Linked DNA regions of Homo sapiens: region 1 is linked to region 2. The links come from fine-mapping of genetic effects on plasma protein levels. A gene starts in region 2. The other region holds a variant in brackets. All regions are shown on one strand. Distances are between the middles of the regions.

Region 1 (5,375 bases), 34 kb before region 2:
ACCTGTCTTCTTGTGCGCCTCTGGTGATGGAAGGCTCACTGCTGCTGAGACGTTCCTTTCAGAACTGAGAAGAGGGGTTGGGGCCAGGGCCTAAGACTGTGTGATGCAACAGCCCTCTGTTGCTCCCTCTTTCTCCTTCGTTCTCTCTCTCTGTAACTCTGTTCCTTGAACTGTCTTTGCTTGTCCCCCTATGAAACTGGGGTTTCCATTGATTCAGCCAGGAAATTCCCCAGTACCTGAAGGATTACAAAATACCAAACCCAGGCTGGGGGCGGTGGCTCACGCCTGTCATCCCAGCACATTGGGAGGATCACTTGAGCCCAGGAGTTTGAGACCAGCCTAAGCAACATTGCAAGACCTTGTGTTTGCAAATAGCTAAAAAATTAGCCGGATGTGGTGGCATGTGCCCATGGTCCCAGCTACTTGGGAGGCTGAGGTGGGGGAATCACTTGAGCCCAGACAGTTGAGGCTGTTGTGAGTGGCGATCATGCCAATGTACTCCAGCCTGCGCAACAGAGAGAGATCCTGTCTCAAAAAACAAACAAACAAATTCAGTGCCTGGCACATGTTGTATATTCAATTTGTGATGATGGTAAGATGTGACAGACATACAAACGAAGACCATGGCCGTCTCTCCAAGACTCTAAAGCAAGCTCTCCGAGGGCACTGGAAACCCCAGCCCTAGCTGATAAGGGGCAGCCACCATTCAGGAGGTGAATATTATGGAATTCTGGAAACTTCCACAAAAGCTCCAAATAGAAGTGTGTGAATGATTCTGAGTCTCGGCTCCCCAGCTGCTTGGACCCCCCAGCCACACCCTAGCTGCCCCTCAAATGCATCCAGAGACTGACAACTCAGGCCAAAGCCCTGTGCTTGGGGACACCATGGCATTGGAGCAGGGGGCGGGACCCCCAAATGTGACCCCTGGGAGGTGTGTTTTGTATGGTGGGGAAAGGGAGTGAGGTTGGGGCTCTGGAAGACAGGAGGGCATCGAGGCATATCAGAGGCCTTTGGAACATTACTCTTCCCAGGAACCAGATTCTGCTGGGAAGAAAGCCCATGCTTGCAAATAGAAATAGCGAGGGAGACCAGGCCAACAGCGCCCTGCCAAGCAGAGCACAGAGGGACCGCTCTAACACCGAGCAACATGTGATTAACAGGTTACACTAATTAGGAGCCAGCAGCACCCAAGGGAGCTCCTTGGGAAGTTTCTCTCCTCCTCCTCCACATCTCTTTTTTCTGATTATGTATTGAATACTGTTATTGTTGAAAATCTGAAAATACAAATATGTGTAAAATGGAAAGTAACACCCCCCCCCCACATTCTCCCTAAAATTTTACACCCACAGATGTGCGGCCAATATTTTGGTGTATTTTCCTTAAGTCGTTTTTCTAGACTTTCTTTGTTTGGAGAGTTTTGCCATACCCCTGCCCCTCAAGCCTTGTTCACTCAGCAAAGCCCTCCTTTGGAGTGTGAAAGGCAGAGGTGATGCGGCCCTGCTCTGGGATCCGAGTCCTGAGTTGAGAAGGGTTTTCCTGAACCTCCAAGCTGGTCCTCTGTGTCGTTGCTGTCCAGGAACAAAGGACAGGAGCTGAGGGACAGGAAACCCCATGGGTGTCCATCCTACCCAGGACAGGACAGGTGATCAGGAGCAACAGCCGAATCTCTTGGGCGGCCTCTTGGGGGCCACCTTCACCAGCGAGTCCTTCAGGCCTTCTTCTTGCATCCTGAGTGACCTATGTGACAGTGCCAGGCATCAGGCCTCTCTCTCACCTCCTACGGGCAGCACGGATGGGCCCATGGGTGCAGCTGGGGGGTGGGAGGCCGCACCCACAACCCCCACAACAGCTCTGCCCCTGCCCTGCATTCCACATGAGACCCGAAGAATTGAGTCACTGAGACTTTGACCTTCTCTTTCTGGCCTACTATGTGCCAGGCACTGTGCAGGACTCTGACTATGACAAAGAAGCCACCATTCCCTCCCTTGAGTAGTGAGAGAGACAGACAGGAAAAGGGGTGACTGCAGCCCGGGAATGATGGGGAGGCACACAGGGACTTCACACCAGGTCCTGGAGGGATCTGGGGAGGAAGGAGATGGTGACCGAACTGAGCCATGGACAAGGTATGCCAGCAGAAAGGGTGGGGGAGGTGCATCCCAAGCAGAGGGCCATGGCGCGGCTCAGTGCCGAGAGAGCTTGGAGGCTGGGGAAGCAAAAGAAGTCCATTCATTTCTTCGTGATATATTTACTGTGTGCCAGATGGTGCTCATCTGATCTAGCTCCCCTCATGCCTTACTCATTTTATTCATTTATGGAGCACCTAGGTCCCAGGTATGGGGAGAGGGGCTGAACAAAACAGACATGGCCCTGCCTTCCTGGACAACAAGAAAACAGATAAATGCATATATCATTAATATGTGTCGTGTCAAGAAGGGCCATGAAGGACACAAACAGGGGCTGTGATCCAAAATAGTGATGGCAGGTGGGTGATCAGGGAGGGAGTCTCTGAGTGGCTGGAACTTGGCAAGTGTGTGTGTGTGAGTGTGAGTGTGTGTAAGAGTGTGAGTGTGTGTGGGTGTGAGTGAATGTGTGTGTGTGTAGGGGTGGGGGAGATGGCACTAGAGATGCTGCAGGCCATTGCAAAGCATTTGGATTTTAATGGAAGCTACTGGAAGTTTGGGAGCAGAAGAGAGACACTCCTTTTCTCAGCCCTCTTTGCAAATGAAAAAACTGAGGCTCAGAGAGCCTAAGTGCCTGTGGGGAGTGATTCAGCGAACGGGAAGGGCAGAGCTGGAGTCAGGAGACTCTCAGTGCAGGGCTCTCTCTCCCCTCAGACTGGTGAGCCCAGGTCTTTAACTAGGTGCTTCCCTGACCCATTTCCTCAGAATGGGCCTTCCTGTCCCACCTGGGAGTCAAGAGTGGGGCCGGAGCTGTCCCAGAGGATTCTGCAAGGGGGGGGGTGGGGGCGGCGGGGGGCGGGCAGCACTTACCTGGCCAGGTTTACTACAGGCTCCAGGATGTTGTGACCCAAGGCGGCACTGCACT[C/T]CCCAAAATAGACCCCCAGTTCCTGCAGGCCAGACAGGGAGGGACATATGTGCCTTGGGAGAGACAACTGAAAGGCCAGGCCATACCCCGCCACTAAAGTCCCGGCCATCAGAGTCCCAATGCATCCCTAAGCTGACCTCAGTGGCGAGCAAGACAGCCCCATCTCAGCGTGGGCCACGGTCCCTGCCTGGAGCCCTTTGCCCACTGTCCCTTCACCCCGGCTGGCCAAGGTGTCAAGGAATGCATTGAAGAGACATTTCACAGCCTTCGGAGTGGCATGGGAAGCCTGCATCCCAACTTGGAGAAATGCCCCTGGAGACATTTTATAAATGTTAGTTATGTTTTTTAATTTCAGAAATATTTCATTGGGGGAATATTGGAAGATATAGTATAAGACAGTACCAGCTCAATATCTAAACCACTGCTGTTAGTGTTTGGGTAGATATTGCCATTCTGTTTTATATAACCCTTTTACGGGGCGGGGGCTAACTGTCCTGTACAGTTAGGTTAAACCACACGAAATTGCTATTTTTGGCAAGCTCCAGTCAAATATCAGCAATTTCATATGTTTCAACCTAACCTATATCTAGATTTGTAGCTGCTTATATGATTTTCTATTATATTGTAAGCATTTCCCCCACACCCTTAAATATTTTTCCAAGACAGGATTCTTAATGGCAAATACTAACCTCTCACATGAACATCCACAGTTTAACCACCAATTGCTGCCAAATGTTTGTTCTTATAAATAATATTTGAAAACCCTCATATAAACCTGTTCGATTGTACGTTATACATGGGTATCCATTAGGTGTTCCTTTAGGGATTATTACTTCTGAGTCTTCCCTTACGATAAATTGCTAGAGGATAAATTACTATGTCAAAGGGATGAGTTACTACTTTTAAGAAAAAGGCCGAGCATGGTGGCTCACGCCTGTAATCCCAGCACTTTGGGAGCCCGAGGTAGGCAGATCCCTTGAGGTCAGGAGTTCCAGATCAGCCTGGCCAACATGGTGAAACCCCGTCTCTACTAAAAATACAAAAATTAGCCGGGCGTGGTGGCACATGCCTGTAATCCCAGCTACTAAGGAGGCTGAGGTGGGAGAATCGCTTGAACCCGGGAGTCGGAGGTTGCAATGAGCCAAGATCGTGCCACTGCACTCCAGCCTGGGTGACAGAGCAAGATTCCATCTCAAAAAAAAAAAAAAGAAAGAAAGAAAGAAAAAAAATTCCCTTCCAGCAGGAGCCACAATGATGACCTCACAATTTACGGGAAGTGGGAAGAGAAACAGGAAGGAAATACAGTAGGAAGATGCCAAGAGGGGTTGTGTGAGAGGTGGGGCGAGGAGTGATTTTTCCCTCTATTTTTATTACTCTCCAGATTTTCTGGAATGTGGTTAAATGCCATTCATGAATAGATAGTGTTCACTGTCTGGCAGTGGGGCTTTTGATGTAATCATCCCAAGGGAGAATTTGAGTCTTAAAATAGGAGAACTTAGAAGGCAGCACGTTAATTAGAGACCAGAGATAAAATTAAAATTTGATTGGGAATTTTAAGCAAAGCTTTCAAAACCTTTTTACTCTGAAGCTATTTCTTATGTAGGTGGGGACATGGTGTGGGAATGTGCTAATTCAACAGTGAGGTTCAGTGTCACGCCCGCCACTCCAGCCTTGGGTTTGGGCTTAAAGCGCATCTCCAGAGGCCAGGGCTGTGTGGGAGGCAGAGGTGGCTAGGCTGCTGTCCACTCTGAACAGGCCTTTGGTTGGGGCAGGGGCAGGAATGGGCCACGGGTTCTTCTCGGCTGCCCAGGTCAGGTGATGCCTATCCACCACCTGCCAGGGAGGTGTCTGCCCAGTCCACGCACAGAGACGGGCTGATGCCCAAGTGCTTACCTGGGCCAGTTGCTGCCCAGCTTCCACGGACACTTGCCGTTCCTCCTCACAGTCCATCTTGTTTCCCAGGAGAAGGATGACCACCCCATCCGACCCTGCATCCTGCACACAGAACATGTTCTGTCAGCCACACCCACTGTGTGCCAGGCTCCTGGCACATTTGCCTTCCTAGAAGCTGAACTGTGTCCCCCGCATGTTCCCCCTCCCAGGCCACATCCACTCCATAACCTTCTCACCTGGACCCTTTCCCCCATCCTTCCTCTCTGCTGATAAACATCTCACTTATTTTCCAAGGCCAACCTTAAGAACACCTCCCCCAGGAAGCCTTCCTGGGTTGTTCCTGCCCATGTCCTCTCTTCCTGCCTGTTCTGAACAGTCCAGCACTTGATTATACATTTTCCCAATTGTCTCATGAATAATAATAATAGTTTCTGATT
Region 2 (5,375 bases):
TCCTCATGCTGAAATAGAGGCCTCACGTGAGTAGGGAGATGACCATTCTGTTCACTGTTCTATCCCAAGAGCCTAGAACAGCGCTTGGCACACAGTTGGTACTCTGCAAATATTTGCTGAATATATGATCCACATAAAGCCACTTAGGAGTGCGCTTGGTATCAGTGACTACCAGGTAAAGGTAGCAATGACAACAGTGGTGATGATATTGATAAAGGTGAATTCTATTTGAGGCACATAAAAGCCAGGTTCCATGCAGATACAATTGATCCCATTTGACAGATGAGGAAACTGAGGGAGGTTCCAAGAGGCAGAGTGACCTGCCCCAGCCATGATGTCAGTGGTAGAACTACACCAGACTCTGCTCTTCTGGTTGGTCATGGGATGGACTTCCCCAAGGCTACAGAGGTGGCTCTTCCCTGGGCAGAAGGCCCCTCTGGGGATGACAAACACCCAGTGGAGTAGCCCTGAGTGGGACAAGGGCTTTGGAACGGGGTGGGCGTTGACAGGCTTGGCTCCTGTGGTGACGCCCAATGTCTCATGTACTTCCGGCAATGGAGCTAACACGGCCAAGGGAGCAAGATAAGATTCCCTGTGCAGAAGCCTCCAGAAGCAAAGTCCACTGTGATGTGAGTGTCACATCGCAGCCTGCCGGGCTCCCACAGGTGTAGGATGTTAGAATCCTGGAAGAAATTCCCTGCAGCCACATCCTAGGACATGTGGCATTCCTGACTTTCCTTTCTGGGAGTTCCTAGCCAAGCTACACCTCCACAGCCCATTTCCAGCAGTCCCCTGGCATTTTTTAAGAAAATAGCACCTTCCAGACACCTCGCCTGCCCCACCTCAGCATCTGCCCTCTCTGCCAGTCAATCCTTCTCTCCCAGGAGGGGTACTCAGCCACCCGCTCCTTGCCTGACAGGTGGCCTGGGGCAGGAAGGCAGCAGGTGCCCTCCAGCCATCGCCACCTCAAAATCAGTCACTTGTCACCATCAGGTGGGATGGTGCACTCACCCCTCGTGCCTTCACATTCAGATCCCTGACAGCACCCCCACGGCCTGACAGCACAACCTAAAAACAGTCTGTGTCCCTTCTAGGCCAGGCCTGGTCCCTCAGAGACAGCAAGGACATCCTTCAGTCAATCCACAAATGTACACGTGCAAACGTGCACGCACACACACCCTCCTTGGCCATCATCCTCACCCTCCAATCCCTCACCATCAGCCTCTCAGTCAGACACAGCACCCCTCACGGCCATTCCATCATTCCATTCTGCATGTGCAAATGCCGTCGCCCAGCACACACATCCCTCCGAGTCAGCTGGCAGGGCCACCCTGCCAGCGCCCTTCTCCTCCACCACTTTCCCCTTAGTGCATCCTCATGCCTCACGTCCTTAAGAGTGGGGGACCCCTTCATGGCTAGGACACACATATAGCCCCTCAGCATGACCACCTCTCCCCACATCCCTCACCTAAGAAATCGCATAAAACTTGAAGCCAAACATGAGAGCAAATGAATCCCACTCCCAAGCACCTGCGGGAATCCACTACCACCGTGGTATTCTGTTAGGCAGCAGGCACCACAGGCTGCCCACCAGGAAGTGGAAGCCAGAGAAGAAGAGTGGGGTGGGGCAGCAGGCAGCAGCAGATTACAACCTGGCATGGGCCCTGCCTGGGGCCTCCGGGTATCCATCACTGTCTCACCAAAGGGCGCTCAGAACTGGGTCTGCTCTCCACTTGGCTGGCTTCAATAGCTGTAAATAATAGCCACAGTCGCTAAACCCCAGTGGTCCAAGTCAGTGGGCCTGAGAGACCACCTAGTGTCTTGTTCCAGTCTACTTATCCTCACTCCTCCTCTCCTAACTAACAGAGAAACTGAGGCTCTGAGAAACCAGGTGACTTGCCCTAGGTCACACAGCCATTTACGGGTAGTGATGTACCCCAGCCTCTTGCCCAAGTGCTTTCCCATCCCCTCCCTTAGACCATGCAGAGAGCTCCAAATGCAGGAGAAAAGAGGGCTCTGCCTTTTGCACCCTTGACATAGAAGTTAAACAGGGACCCCAGCTCCCTCCCCCATCCTCATCCTTCCAAAGAAAAAGAAGCATTGCAACCTTGGGATGGCTCCTACCTCTCAAAGGCTCCCAGTGGAACACACAGCCCTGGGCTCTGGGACCTGGTGGTAGGGTGACTGCTGCCCTGCGGAGCCCACGAGCTCTAGAACTGTTAACAGTCTTGTCTTGCTTAATCTCCCTTTCCGTTCCCCAGCGAGCCAATCTCCTGTGCTCATCTACAGGACTTCCTGTGGAAGCGACCACTGGCGGCCCTTTCACAATTTTGCCTGGCACCCCCAGGCATCCCTGCCCTGATTGGTGTCTTGAAGTGGAGAATGCTGGAGCTGGCAGGGAGGCCCTCCTAAGCAGAGGCTCCAAAGAGTGAGATGGACTGCTCAAGATCACCCAGCCCTTAGTGGCACAGCCAGGACTGGGCCTCAGTCTCTGGTTGCCAAGGCAATGCCTTATCCCAGACAGCAGCAGGTTGATGGGCACAGCCGTGGCTGAAGCTAAGTGTATGGGATGCCCCGGGAGAACTGCCCATCCTGCCTCACTTCAGGCCCTCACTCTCAGACAGTGTCTTTGAGCCTCAGGGGAGGCTTTATATCTAAACCACCTTTTAGGGAACAATCTAGTCTGATACCAAAATACACTGTAGAGCTACAACCATCAGAACAGTGTGGAATTGGAGCATGACTATAGACAGATGAATCAGTGGAACAGAATAATGAAATAGACTCAAATATTTGTGGGACAGGAATAGACTCAAATATTTGTGGGGATTTAGTGTATCATAAAGGCACCACTTCAAATCATTGGAGAAGAGATGGTTTATTCAATAAACTATGTTGGGAGAATGGGCTAGGTATCTGCAAAAAACAAAGAGCTCTAACTCTAAAAGCATTCCAGATGGATAAAAGACATAAGCATTTTAAAAATCAAAATCACATAATTATATGTTGTTTGGGATTTACTTCAAAATTATTGAAGAGTGTGGAGAATAGGTAGGACATAGATGAAACAAGACTGGCTCTGGACCTGTTCTGATCCCTGCTGGAGTTAATGAGGGTACTGCAGGCTCATTATGTTCTTCTGCTTTTCTGTATGTTTGAACAAATGCCATAAGAAATCATGGCATAGTTCATTTGCCATGGTTGCAGAAGAAGGAAGGAAAGAAAAGGAAGGAAGGAGGGAAGGAAGGGAGGGAGGGAGGGAGGGAGGAAGGAAGGAAGAAGGAAGAGAGAGAAAGAGAAAGAGAAAGAAGAGAGAGAAAGAAAGAGAGAGAAAGAGAAGAAAGAAAAAAGAAAGAAAGAAGAAAGAAACTAAGAAAGAAAGAAAGAAAGAGAAAGAAAGAAAGAAAGAAAGAAAGAAAGAAAGAAAGAAAGAAAGAAAGAAAGAAAGAAAGAAAAAAAGAGGAAGGAAGGAAGGAAAGATAGATCTGTCATGGGATAGGCTGGGTGTGGTGGCTCATGCCTGTAATCCCAGCACTCTGAGAGGCTGAGGCAGGAGGATCGCCTGAGCCCAGGAATTCAAGACCAGTCTGGACAACATAGTGAGACCCCGTCTCCATTAAAAAATAATAATAATAAAGAAGGAGAAGAAGAAGGAGGAGGAGGAGGAAGAAGAAGAAGAAGAAGAGAAAGAAGAAAAAAAGGAAGAAAGAGATCATGGGATAATTTTTAAATAATCTTGGATTAGGCAAGGCCTTTCCAGATATATCACAAAGCATTAGAAGCCACAAAAGAAAATATTGAGCCATTCAACCATACGGAAACTTTTTAAAAATAAATAAAACTGAATGGCAAAAAAAGGTCACCACTGATAAGTCAAAAGGCAAACTCTGAAAAAATACTTACGTATCATAGAAAATAAGTTAATTTCCTCCCTCTGTAAAGAACTCCTGCAGATCAATGAAAGACCAATAATGCATTAGAGAAATTGGCACCATATGTGAATAAACAATTCATGGAAAAATAAATATCAATGGATTTAAACATATGAAAAATATTTATAAAAGTAAACATTTCTGTTTATAAAAATATAATAAGAGAAATAAAAGATAAAACTACGTACCATCACAAAGAAGATGAGGGTAAAAATAAAAAATAAAACTACACCGAGACATCATTTTCAGCTATTCAATTAGTAAGATCCAAAAAGTGATATATTATGTCATAAAGGATGTAGGAAACACATTCACACATTATTGGCAGGAATATAAACTGGTACAACTTTTATGAAAAGAAGTGTATAATATCTGTCAACATTTAAAATGCAAAAATCTTTCTACCCAGCAATTTCACTTTCAGTCATTGATTCCACAGATGATATACAATATGACAGTATGGAAGGATACTCATTACAGTATTGTCTGTGGTAGCAAAGGATTGGAAATGATCTAAATTTCCATCAGTAGGGAGCTGGTTAAATGAGCTCTGATACATCCGAACATTGGCATACTCTGCACCGTGAAGAAAATGAGAAAGATCCAGGTGGAGTGATATGGAATGACCTTCAAGATATTGTGTCATATGAAAAAAGTAAGGTGCAGAACAGTGAGGATAGTGTGCTTTTTATGAAGAAAAAAGTGTATGTGTGTGTATGAAATATATGCAATAGATAAGGGCCGTGATATAGTTAAGTTTTATGTCCTCACCCAAATCTCATCTTGAATTATACTCCCTATGTGTCAAAGGAAGGAAGTGATTGGATTATGGGGGCAGTTTCCCCCATGCTGTTCTCGTAACAGTGAGTGAATTCTCAAGAGAGCTGATGGTTTTATAAATGGCAGTTTTTCCTGTGCTTATATACTTTCCTCCCCTGCTGCCATGTGAAGAAGGTCCTTGCTTCCCCTCACCTTCCGCCATGATTGTAAGTCTCCTGAGGCCTCCCCAGCCATATGGAACTGTGAGTCAATTAAATCTCTTTCCTTTGTAAATTACCCAGTTTCCGGTATTTCTCTATAGCAGTGTGAAAATGGACTAATACAGGCCAGGTGAGGTGGCTCACACCTGTAATCCTAGCACTTTTGGAGGCTGAGACAGGCAGATTGCTTGAGCCCAGGAGTTAAAGACCAGCCTGGGCAACAAGGTGAAACCTTGTCTCTATAAAAAATAAACAAAATTAGCCAGGCGTGGTGGCGCATGTCTGTAGTACCAGCTACTCGGGAAGCTAAGGTGGGAGGATCGCCTGAGCCCTGGAGGTCAAGGCTGCAGTGAGCCGTGATTGTACCACTGCACTCCAGCCTGGGCGGCAGAATGAGGCCCTGTCTCAAAAAAAGAAAAAAATAGATAAGCACACACATTCATATATGATTGTAAATGCATAG

Which allele goes with the higher level. Alleles are on the strand shown, and positions count from the first base shown. The strength of an association depends on the size of the effect and on how common the allele is.
As copies of T replace C in region 1, the plasma level of the protein whose gene starts at base 2,214 in region 2 goes down (moderate association).

Evidence for each region. PIP is the chance, under the fine-mapping model, that this variant and not a neighbour inherited with it causes the effect. Protein levels are from antibody-based Olink assays in UK Biobank. Linkage for the fine-mapping came from a reference panel and not from the study's own genotypes, which makes the PIPs less certain.
Region 1: its variant is fine-mapped to the plasma level of the RAB44 protein (UK Biobank, PIP above 0.99). The variant lies in the coding sequence of RAB44. If it changes the protein, the assay may bind it differently, which can mimic a change of level.

The regions. Positions count from the first base shown.
Region 1 is chr6:36,728,365-36,733,739 of GRCh38, reverse strand. It overlaps RAB44 (RAB44, member RAS oncogene family), which reads right to left. Exons shown (of 14, transcript NM_001257357.2): 12 at 4,939-5,040; 13 at 2,991-3,067; 14 at 556-1,737. The coding sequence ends at 1,647. Among named protein-coding and RNA genes, the nearest start is that of RAB44, 33 kb to the right of the region's middle. The variant C/T (reference allele first, on the strand shown) is at 3,046.
Region 2 is chr6:36,694,665-36,700,039 of GRCh38, reverse strand. It overlaps RAB44 (RAB44, member RAS oncogene family), which reads right to left and starts at 2,214. Exons shown (of 14, transcript NM_001257357.2): 1 at 2,125-2,214.